2 separate regions of the Homo sapiens genome follow, and region 2 is linked to region 1. The links come from fine-mapping of genetic effects on gene expression. Tissue or cell type: whole blood. Region 1 holds a variant in brackets; the other region holds the start of a gene. All regions are shown on one strand. Distances are from middle to middle.

The links. PIP is the estimated chance that this variant, and not a neighbour inherited with it, causes the effect.
Region 2: it holds the start of DLEU7, and the variant in region 1 is fine-mapped to the expression of DLEU7 in whole blood (TOPMed, PIP above 0.99). The same link has a PIP of 0.9 or more in blood mononuclear cells.

What each region holds. Positions count from the first base shown.
Region 1 is chr13:50,712,471-50,717,696 of GRCh38, reverse strand. It overlaps a transcript of DLEU7 not described here. Among named protein-coding and RNA genes, the nearest start is that of DLEU7-AS1, 93 kb to the left of the region's middle. The variant G/A (reference allele first, on the strand shown) is at 2,685.
Region 2 is chr13:50,840,708-50,845,933 of GRCh38, reverse strand. DLEU7 (deleted in lymphocytic leukemia 7) reads left to right here and starts at 2,242. Exons shown (of 2, transcript NM_001306135.2): 1 at 2,242-2,746. The coding sequence starts at 2,288. All of the region lies in intron 4 of DLEU7-AS1 (DLEU7 antisense RNA 1), which reads right to left. RefSeq lists an enhancer at 2,386-3,312.

The sequences.
Region 1 (5,226 bases):
CTCAGTCTTGGCATTAGGGCTAGGTGTTAGAACTTCTCATAAAGTGTTCTGATTTATGGACTCCCTGCTCCTTACCATAAAATGAAGAGAAATCCTAAATTTGAAAAAAAAAAAAACCCACAGCCTAGCTAATGAGACTTCACGCTATTTGTTAATTAATAAGCATTTAATAGCATGAAGATCAGAATAACTCCAGTTTGCAAAATGTACTTACCATTTTGGAAACATCAGCAACTGAAAAGTGGGTTACATGATACAATGAGTGTAGTTGCCTTTCTCCAGACCTGTTCTGTTTCCTTGCCCTCTCTGGCCTCTTTCTGGCTCCATTTACCTTTTCCACTAGTTTACCAGATGATTCATCAACTTTCTGGCATTTTCCACTTACCATCTGTGTCCAGCATCCTGGTAAAATCCAATAAACTTTCTAATATCCAGCATCCCATTAACTATATCCTTGTATATAGCAAATTCACTGGGAGTGGATAGTCATATGATGGCCTCAAGGCAAAGGGCTCTACCACTTTTTGAATACCCACTGTGTGCCAAGTTCTGTGCTGGTTGCATCAACTAAATCATCTCACTTAAAGCTAAAGTATTAAAGATCCTAAAAAGCCATTTTACAGAAAGATTAGATTATTTTCAATTTATTATTCAGAATAAATATATCTTTTTTCTTTAACTTCTCAAATAGTTATTGAATTGTATTGGTTTAAATTAAATGCGTCATGTGTATATATAGTATTAATTCAAGAGATACAAAAGGAAATTGAGTGAAAAATAAGTCTGCCTCCTTCCCATCACTCTCATGTCTCTACCTAGAGGCAATTATTGTCAACAGTTTTTGATGTGTCTTTCAAAAAATAGTCCATTAAGCCTGGTGTACTAGATCTCTTTTAAAAGTTTACAACCTGTTACAGAATATATATAAATGTTCAATTACTAGTAACACCTTATTACATATACAGATTACAACTTAGAAATATATTTTCATGACCATTATGTCATTTGATTCTCCCTACAATCCTATGAACAAGGCAGGGGAGACATTGTTGTTACCACCTTACACATGAAGAAACCAATGCTCAAAAATGTAAAATGATCTGCCCACGTGTATATAGTTAGTGAGAGTCCCAGTTCTAGAACAATAACTAGTCTAATGCTCTTTCCGTGACATCACGGAAAAGGTAGCCCAAGGATTAGAGATCAAAAAACATTAGCCTTCCTCGATCAGTCAAAGTACTCTTTCTGTATAGTGTCAATTAACAGAGAATTTACTATGTTCAATATGGTACCAAGAGGGCATTATTCCATGTAAATAATATAGCATATAAAAACTCAATATTCTGGCTTTGCAACTGTGGTCATTAAGCTGTAACCAAACATTTCAATGAAACAAGGGCTTGAGTTCCTGTTAATGGAGATGTTTGGCCCTTCTCTTGAGATAGCCCTTGGTGATCAGAACCTACACATTGCTAGAGAAGGGTTGGGGCATTTGTGAATCTGGTCTATTAAACAAAAAAGACCAAGCAGGAAGCAATTCTATTCTTTCTTAGAACTGCCCAGTGAACTTGTTTCCTTATTTGGTGATAAAATCCTAGGTTGATCTAACATTTATGCCACCTTTCAGTTACTAACAAATACTTTGTGTTTTGAGATCTTGAAGGTCCAGTTCAGTCTAACATCAAAGCTTCCTGTGTCCCCAGCCCAGACCTGCCTCAGCAGGGTGTGGAGGGGAAGCAGTGCATGGCCAGGTGGCAGGGAGCTGCAGGGTAGCAGCAAGGTGTGCCAGGGCATGACAGCCAAACTTACCTTTCTGCTACTCTTCTTTGGCTCTTCTGCTGCCTTTGGGTCCTCCCACATCAGAACAGCAGTAGGGAGGAAAGGCAAGGTTGTGATTTGGTAGCATTATCTGGCATAGACGTTGTCTGAAGGCCGATGATTTTCTCAAGTGGAATCTTCGGAGTTTTTCCGAAACACCTCCACTAGGGAGCTGCCATTGTAGCTTCCTAACACACGTCTCCTCCAGCTATGACTTCCCCTCCTCCATCTCCGACTTCTTCCTGCTGGGGTTCCTTGTGTCTCCTGTTGGTTCCTCCTTTTGAGTGGAGCCCCATTCTCGGCTGATAGCCCAGTTCCGTTCCCTGAGTCCTCCAGGGCAACATCCCCTTTGCTGCGCCATCGGCGGAAGTGCGACTTCTCCAGCTCTCGCCCCCTTTCTCCTTTAGCTGCCACCGGCTGCTCTGTCTAGCTTCTCACCTGCTGGCTTTTCAGGTACTAATCTCTATGTGGTAGGCTGAATAAGGCCCCCACCAAAGATGTCCTTTTCCTAATCCCCAGAACCTGTGAATAGCTTACATTACACGGCAACAGGGACTTTGCAGATGTGGTTAAGGTAACAGATTTTTAGATGAGGGGATTATCCTGGATTATCGGGTAGGCTCAAAATAATTACATGATCCTTTAAAAGCAGAGAACATTTCCCGACGAAAGTCAGAGAGATGAGGCCTCGTGAGAAGGATTCCACACACTCACACTCTCGCTGGCTCTGAGATGTAGGTGCCCTTGTGCAAGAATCAGAGAGAGGCTGCAAGGAGCCAGTGGCAGTTCCCGCCGACAGCCCGCAGGGAAGCAGGGACCTCAGTCCATCAGGCAAATTGAACTGAATTCCGCCAACAAGGCGCAGA[G/A]GCCTGGAAACAGATGCTTCATTAGAGCCTCTAGGAGGGAGTACAGCCTGGCCAACACCTTGATTTCAGCCCTGTGAGGCTTGAAGCCCACACACCAGCCGCGCCCACTGGACTTCTAACCTACAGAACTGTGAGGTAGTAATTTTGCTATTTTTAAGCTGTTAAATGTGTGCTAATTTGTTTCAGCAGCAATAGACACTAATACATTCTATGTTCCCCAAAGCCTAGGGGTCCTAGGTCAGCTCTCCAAGTAATTCTCTGAAGGCCCCCTCTTATTTGCGTAAGATGAGGGGAAAACACATGAGAAGGGAGGAGGAAGCATTTTAGCAGCCTGAAAGCTCTGTCTCATGAAATCCTTGCCGTCCTCATTAATTTACAAGTCTCCCCTTGCGTAGCTAAGATTTGAGCGATGGTTTCAGGGTTATTGGACCATTTTTTTGGTCACTCCTTAGCAGATGACATCTCCTGAGAATAGATGAGCATTTTTAACAATATTTTTTTTTCTCAGCTCAAAGATGTCAGCTAGCACTGAGAAAACAGGAAAAGTCTCATTTTAATATCCTGTTACTTAAAGGTATTCACAGAATGGCTTACCGTTTTAGGTTTAACATTCTAATGATATGCCAGATGGACTGGGGTTGCTCGGAAAAAGCTGGGTGACAGGAGAAGGAGTTGAGATCCCAGAAAGAGAATTCACCACTAGGGTGGGAAGACAGACAGGTCAGAAAATAGCCACGTTGCCCAAGACCGGAATTAATGTGGATGAAACAACGCTTCTAGCCCTAGACCTCAGGCATGGCGGGATCCAAGGCAGAGGTGAGAAGGGAGTTTGTGTTCAGTGGCTCACCAGTAAGCAGGACTCTTATGCCTTCCTACAATGATCCTGCAAGAATGGAATAAACTGAGACTACATAGCTTGAGTATGTGCAATAGTTGACCACTTCCTTTCTGTGTTTTGTGGTTTCACAACTTGAGTTTCCAACAGAGCATGGGAGTGAGGGGAGTCAGAGACAGAGCAGCAGTTCTGTAACACAGCCGACAGTCTTCATGAGGGTAGGGGCAAGGCCCTACTGCCCGGTCCGGGAGGCCACATGCGGGCAGAGTCTGGGTCGTTTTCACATCTGCGGAATGATGTGTGTCTGAGGAGGGAGGCAGGTGGGAGACAACTTCCTTACAGTCCCCATCCCGTGTTGCTGCCTTTAATGAGCTTTTAGGAGGCATGATTTCATAGCCTAGTTTATTTTATAATCAAGCCCAGCTTCCTCTGTTAGACCAATCAGTACCTATTAACTGAATGCCTACCGTATGCAGGCTTATGACGCCAGGAACAAATACGTCCATGATGCTGTTGCTGTTTAGGAATTGTAAGATCATGGATAGAACCCCTTTCCTGTCAAGAGCTCACTTTTTCCATAGAGTGAAGGGCAGCTGTAAGGTTATTTCTAGAATTCTATTTTCCTTCCCTTCTCATTTCAGGAAGAAGAAGATGAACATAAAATACAAAGAAAAAGATTAATATAAAGTATAAAGATAGCTATAGAGAAGTCTTCTTCCTGGGTTGTTTGACTCGAAATTAGGGTCCTTCTATGCATATTTTGTGTTTCTCATGTAATTATCTATAATGGGTAGCCAAGAAATGTGTGTTAGCCCATATCTCCAGTACCTAATGCCATTCCTAAAATGCAATATAGTGCTCAGTAAATAATTGTTGAATCAATGAATATAAAAAATGCAAAGCAAGCATTTGAGATATTATGCTACATTTCTTTCAGCTTCAACTCCTGGCTAATGAGTGAAGAAGGTCACTGTAGGAGTGTGAGGACCATCAGGAGCTTCATATTTCAATAACCAGTGCCAAATTCTGAATGCCAGATGGGATGAGATGGGATGTTAAACCACTTCTTATTACCACGTTGTTGGCCTCCATTGCCTTCGTATTGGTCTCCAATTGCATGGTCTCTGTGGATCTCTGACTTCTTATTACCTCCGATTGGAACGCGCCACAAATCATCCTGCTTTCTTTATCCTCTCTCACCTCCAAGTAATCCTGTCATCTTGCTCCAATTAGAGCCGCTTCCATTAAGAAGATCGTGACAAATTCCCTACCCCTGTTTGCTCTTCAGGAAAATTATCCCCTGGAAAAGTGGATGTTATAGTCGCTTTTCAGAATGTATTGTCTGAATTTCTTGTCTTCCAACATTCTCCTAAGCCAGTTACCTTTGCACTGAAGTAGAATTCAAAAGGAGATAGAGGTTCTGAATTTCTTCCTTTGACCAGATGGAAGTCGTTACATCAGAATGCTGATGACTGCAAAATCTTGGACATATTGTTTTCACAATTAGGAAATGGCAAACACAAAGTTCTTCAGTGCAAAGCCAGCATGCGAGTTCAGCTTCCATTTGCTGCTATAAATTTTGTTCTTGTTGCTGCCAGTAAACACCAACTGTTCAAGTGAAATAGTAAATCCAAATGTGCCTGTTGGATGAGAGTAAAAAAATTATATGCTGCATAAATGCTGATGCAAAAGGATTTTTCAACACAC
Region 2 (5,226 bases), 130 kb before region 1:
ACTGAGAAATGAGGGTATGATTTCTATAAAATAGTGAAATATATGTTGTGAAACAAACATATCAGATATCTAATACTTTGTCCTTTTGAATGTGCCCTTTATTACAGAATGGCCTCAAATCGTGAGTACAGTGGGTAAGAAGTAGGCTATCTGTTACTTCGTCTGGTAGCCCAGCAAACGTAACTACGGAGGTGTTTTAGACCAAAGGTAGATCTGCTATGCTATTGACTCATCTAAATAGACTATGAAAATTTTTCCTGAGTTAGGCTCTCATATCTCTAGCTTTGGAACACAAGCCATTTTGAGATCATAGCAAAACACAGTGCGACCCACAGCCAAAACAGACAAAACACTCAGTTGCCAGATGATCCAGGGCTTCCTAAGAATACTAGAAAAAGCAGGCAGCAATTTAAGCAGCATGTGCCATCCCTCAGGCCCCAAGGTTTTCTGGCACCCTTCTGTCATGCCCCCTGAGGTTCAGTTGGTCTCATGGCTCTGACTCAGTGTGGTATGTAGAAGAGTGGGGCCTCAGGTCAGCCTGTGTCTAGTGATTTCAATTCTGCTCTTGGCTGCAATTCCAACTGTCAAGAAAGTTTTGCAGTCAGCCATTTGATAGTGGAAGGGTTAGCCCATGAAACTGAATTTCCTGTGTATCTGGAAAGAGAGGCAGCCCTAGAGATCTGACATGCTCTGTGAAAATTAGGGGTTCATTTTTGCTATTGCTGGTTAGTCTCTGCTGAACCTAATATATTTCAACATTTGAAGACTTTTTTTAAAAAGAAAATTTTTTTCTTTCTATTTTTTATTATGAACTTAAGTAACTTCATGGCAAAAAAATCTAATCAACATTAAACTATTTACTTCCCTCCAAAGTAATTTCCTCTCTGTCAATGCACAGACGTGCATTTTTACTTAGTTATAATTAGTGTGAACATACTCGTTTTTGTTTAAGAAAGGTTTTCTTTACCTTGGCATTCAGATTCGTTTTCATAGGCGAAGAAAGCACTGGGAAGGAGAAGGAACCTTTGCTGGCAAGTTGGGAGGATTATATGGGGTCATACTATCCCAGGGTTAAGGAAACCTTAAAGGACCCAACATCCCTCTCCATATCTCTTCTGATGATCCTTTTGTGCTCACAGACTAACCAGTGTGGCCTTTTCACTCAAAAGCCTCTCCAGATCTGCACAGCACCAAGGGTGCAGTCTGGCTCCCAAAGGAGTAATGCAATTCCATCCTCAGGTCTGCCAGGGCCCACCTGTCTGTCGTGGGCATGCACCATTGCCCTGGCTTTACTGGGCTGTTGGGTTGTCTAGTGGTTTTCCTTGCAGAAAGCAAGCAGGAACAATGCTGCTCCGGACTGGTTTTCCATACCACTCCTCTCAAATATCTTCTATTTTCTTAAGTGTGATCACACACCCATGGTTTCCAATCTATCAAAGCATAACATTGCTAGTCGCTTTTTTCTAAGTTAAGGAAGTAGCCATGTTGGGTTTAATTAAAAACAGCAACTATTTGTACAGCTGTCCCTAAGTTCATGGCTCATAAAAGGATTAACTTCAACCTTGCTGCCTAAGTCTTTTGGGAGTGTCACAAAAAAACATTTAGGCTTTTCTGGGCAGTGCCAGGCCTGGGCCTTGAGGCTTGCTGATGCTAGTTCAGCCACCAGGCTCTCGGTGCTCAAGTGGCACCCAGCAAAGCAGAGAAGAGCAGAACTTCCAGATACACAACTCCTCCTTCTTTTGTTTGGGGGATGCAAGGCCTTGAAGGCTGCTTCAACAAGTTTCTGAAAATTCCCCTCGGGTTGGGAAAGGCACAGTCTTCCTTTTGCAAGTTTTTCTAGAGCCCTTCGTACTTTTGCCCTAGAGTGGGTCTTTTGCACCCCCACCTCCCAGACCTCAGTGGTCATTGGCAGGCATCCTTCGAAGGAGGTGGGGGCGGGGTATCCCCGCCGATGGATGCGCCCGCACAAAGCAGCACGTTTTCTCATCAAAGCCCTGGAGAGAGGGAAGAAGCAACGCTCAGCATTTCGCTGATTTTCAAGTGCACACCGAGCAGCGCTTCAGGCAGCTTTGGGTCAGAACACGCCTGATTCGGACTTCAGGCGAAGGCAGAGGCCAGCACGGGTCACCGATTCAGAGCCGGGGGCGGGGCCGACCACACACGCTGTGAGACCCAGAGGCCGAGGAGCCGCGGGTTAGAAAATGTGACCTTGGCGACCCCAACGCCCCCGCCTCCCTCGCTGCTGCTCCACCTGCACGCGGAGCGCGCCGGGCCGCCAGCGGAGGCGATGGCCAGCCCTGCGCCCTTAGTGGCCTCCATCAGCCACCAAATGGTGGCTCTGCAGACCTTGCAGCTGCTGCAGCAGGAGTGGGGCTGGGGGGACGGTCCAGTCGCCCCCGGGAACCCGCGGGACCCAGACCACGTGTCCACCGCTCCAGCCCGTCGCTCAGGCCCGCCGCGGGCCCGGCCGGGGCCCGGGCGCGAGGAGCGGGGCGGGGGCGTGGGGACCAGGAGTCGGCGGACCGCGGCGCGGGCGAACTCCCCAGAGGAGGAGGTAGTGCGAGGCGCTGAGGGGGGCGCCGAGTTGCTGCCCTTCCCCCGGGACCGCGGGCCCTGCACCCTGGCCCAGATGGCGATGCGCAGCGCGCTGGCCCGCGTGGTGGACTCGACTTCGGAGCTGGTCAGCGTGGAGCAGACGCTGCTGGGGCCCCTCCAGCAGGAGCGGTCCTTTCCCATTCACCTGAAGGTGAGTCTGGCCCCCGCCATCCCCTCTGGCGTGCAGGGTAACCTCCCATCCTCCAAGGGTGGGGCTGCTGGGATGGCGATGGGTGGATCGCAGGATCCCAAACACTGCTGCCCACTGTGATTCAGCCCCAGTGGGAGAAGGAAGGGGGCGGGGGACACTCTGGGGACTCAGCAGGAGGGGCAGGGAGCCCCAGACCCACCTGAGGCCCGCCTGGCTGGCACAACCGAGATGTGGGGACTGCCTTGCCAAAACCTCCCCCTGGAACTCCTTCCTCTCTCACATAAATCAGCTTCCTGCGCTAGAAAGGCCCTTTCCACACGTGCAGCTTGTAGGGATAGAGGACAGCTCCCCCCACCCACTTTCCAAATTAATAACGCTTCCTCCAGAGCCTTAAATACACTTACTAAGTCCCTTCTGCCTTTTGTATGATGAAATCATCTACATTTATTTAAAGTTCCTTCACATTCATGAATCACTATTATTTTTTGCATAAATCCAATTCCCCACAGAGCTAAGGGGTCTTACAGAGTCAACCTACATTCTCATAAAGTGGGGTGAGAGCTGGGTGGGTCCCGGGTGTTAAAGCGTGAATACTAAATGCTAAACTCTTGCTAAGTCACCCAGCTCATATAGGTAGGGCACATTTCCTCTTAAGGTACCAAACTGTGTTAGCCAATTTAGCCCGGGAAGGGAGCAGCTGTCTCCCAGGCTGAGTGAGATTGCGGAAATCTGGGGGTCTGGGTTTCAGTCCTGGACTTGCCATTAACTAACCTAATTGGTTTAAGGTCACGAATCTCTCTGAGACATTCTGGCTTTCAGATTTTGACCAGGAGCATTGCTGTATTTTATTTCCCTGGGGCATCTAGCAGAAGGAGTTGGGGAGGGGTGATGAGGAGAGCTTAGAATATGTCTCAAGAGTTGCTATTCTGTACAAGCCAAGGTTTGGAAAAAGTTGCTATACATTAAGTTGCACTATACACTGTAAAAGATTTATTTAAAATCAAACATAATAAAGCCTATTATATACCCAAATAGGTATTGTTTCTCTACGTAGGGGTTTCTCAATCTCTGTACTATTCACATTTTGACCTGGCTAATTCTTTGTTGTCGGGGGTTGTCCTGTGTATTAGAGGATGTTTAGCAGCATCTCTCGCCTCTACCTGTTAGATGCCAGCAGCATATTCCTCGCCGCAAGTTGATACAGCCAAAAATGTCTCCAGACACTGCCAAAGGTGGCGGGGGCGGTGGGGTGGGAGGCAAGATGAGAAGCACTCCTACACTCACTTTAGAAAGTTAGAAAATGAAGCTGCATTTCACCAAATGCTCTCCAATGTAAGATGTACTTTTTTTTGGTATCACCAAAATTTTTTTTAATCCTGTCATTGAACTATGATACACCATTGATTATAAGTTACATGCTAATTTAAGGGATTTTTTTTTTTTTTTTTTTGAGACAAGGTCTGCCTGTGTTGCCAAGGCTGCAGTGTGGTAGCCATTCACAGGTGCGATCATAACACTACAGCCTCGAGCCCTGGGCTCAAGTGATCCTCCTGCCTCAGCCTCCTCAGTAGCTGCAACTACAAACCTGTACCACCACATCTGGCTGATTTCAGGGATTTTTAAAAAATGTGAATAAAAGTGCATTTTAAAATAGATGAAATATGAAGTGACTTGTGATGTCAGTAGCACATACAGGGCATAGGTAAGGCTGGCAAAAAGAGAGACTGACAATCAGTTTTACCTAAGGTGACCCTGGAAGGCTTCTCAGAGGAGGCAGCCTTTAAAAAAAAAATACATGTTATTTTCCAGACATTAAAGGGAAAAATATTTCAGGAGAATACTTTGGTTAAGGCCCAGCAGCACTGAAAGGGACTGAGGCTCTAGAGGAACTACAGTTAAGTTCAATATGGCAGAAGGCAAAAACTGATGCTGGAGACACAAATGGGGGCCAGTTAGGGAAAGGCCTGTGTGTCATGCTGAGGACCTTGGATTGTCTTGCAAGCAGAGGGTAGGTAAATCACAGAAGCCTGGATAAATCACAGAAGGGTAGGTTTCAGTTTGAAAGTCAGGTCAGAAGACAGCTGTCTAAGGGCTTGACCCAACTCAGTGGCAATGGACTAAACCCCGTGTCCTCTGCTCTGGAAGCAGTCCACTATAAACTATGCCATTTTAGCTTAATGCCACAGTCACTTCTACTTGGAAATCCTTTTAGCCCTTTCTAATTGACTTTTGATTCTAAACATTTTCCATCCTCCTCAAGCCTTCTTCATCCAAACCTCAACCCGCTCACACCTTTTCTGAGAAAATAGAGGCCAGTGGACAGAAATATCTTTCTACCTAAAAAATTGCATTTCTACTCATCTTCATTTTTGTTTCTAAAATTCAAGTGCTGCCCCCCCATCCCCATGTATATTCATGTTAATTCCACTGGAGCAAATCTTTCACTTGCTCCTGGACCTGTTTCTATCAATTTTCTCTCT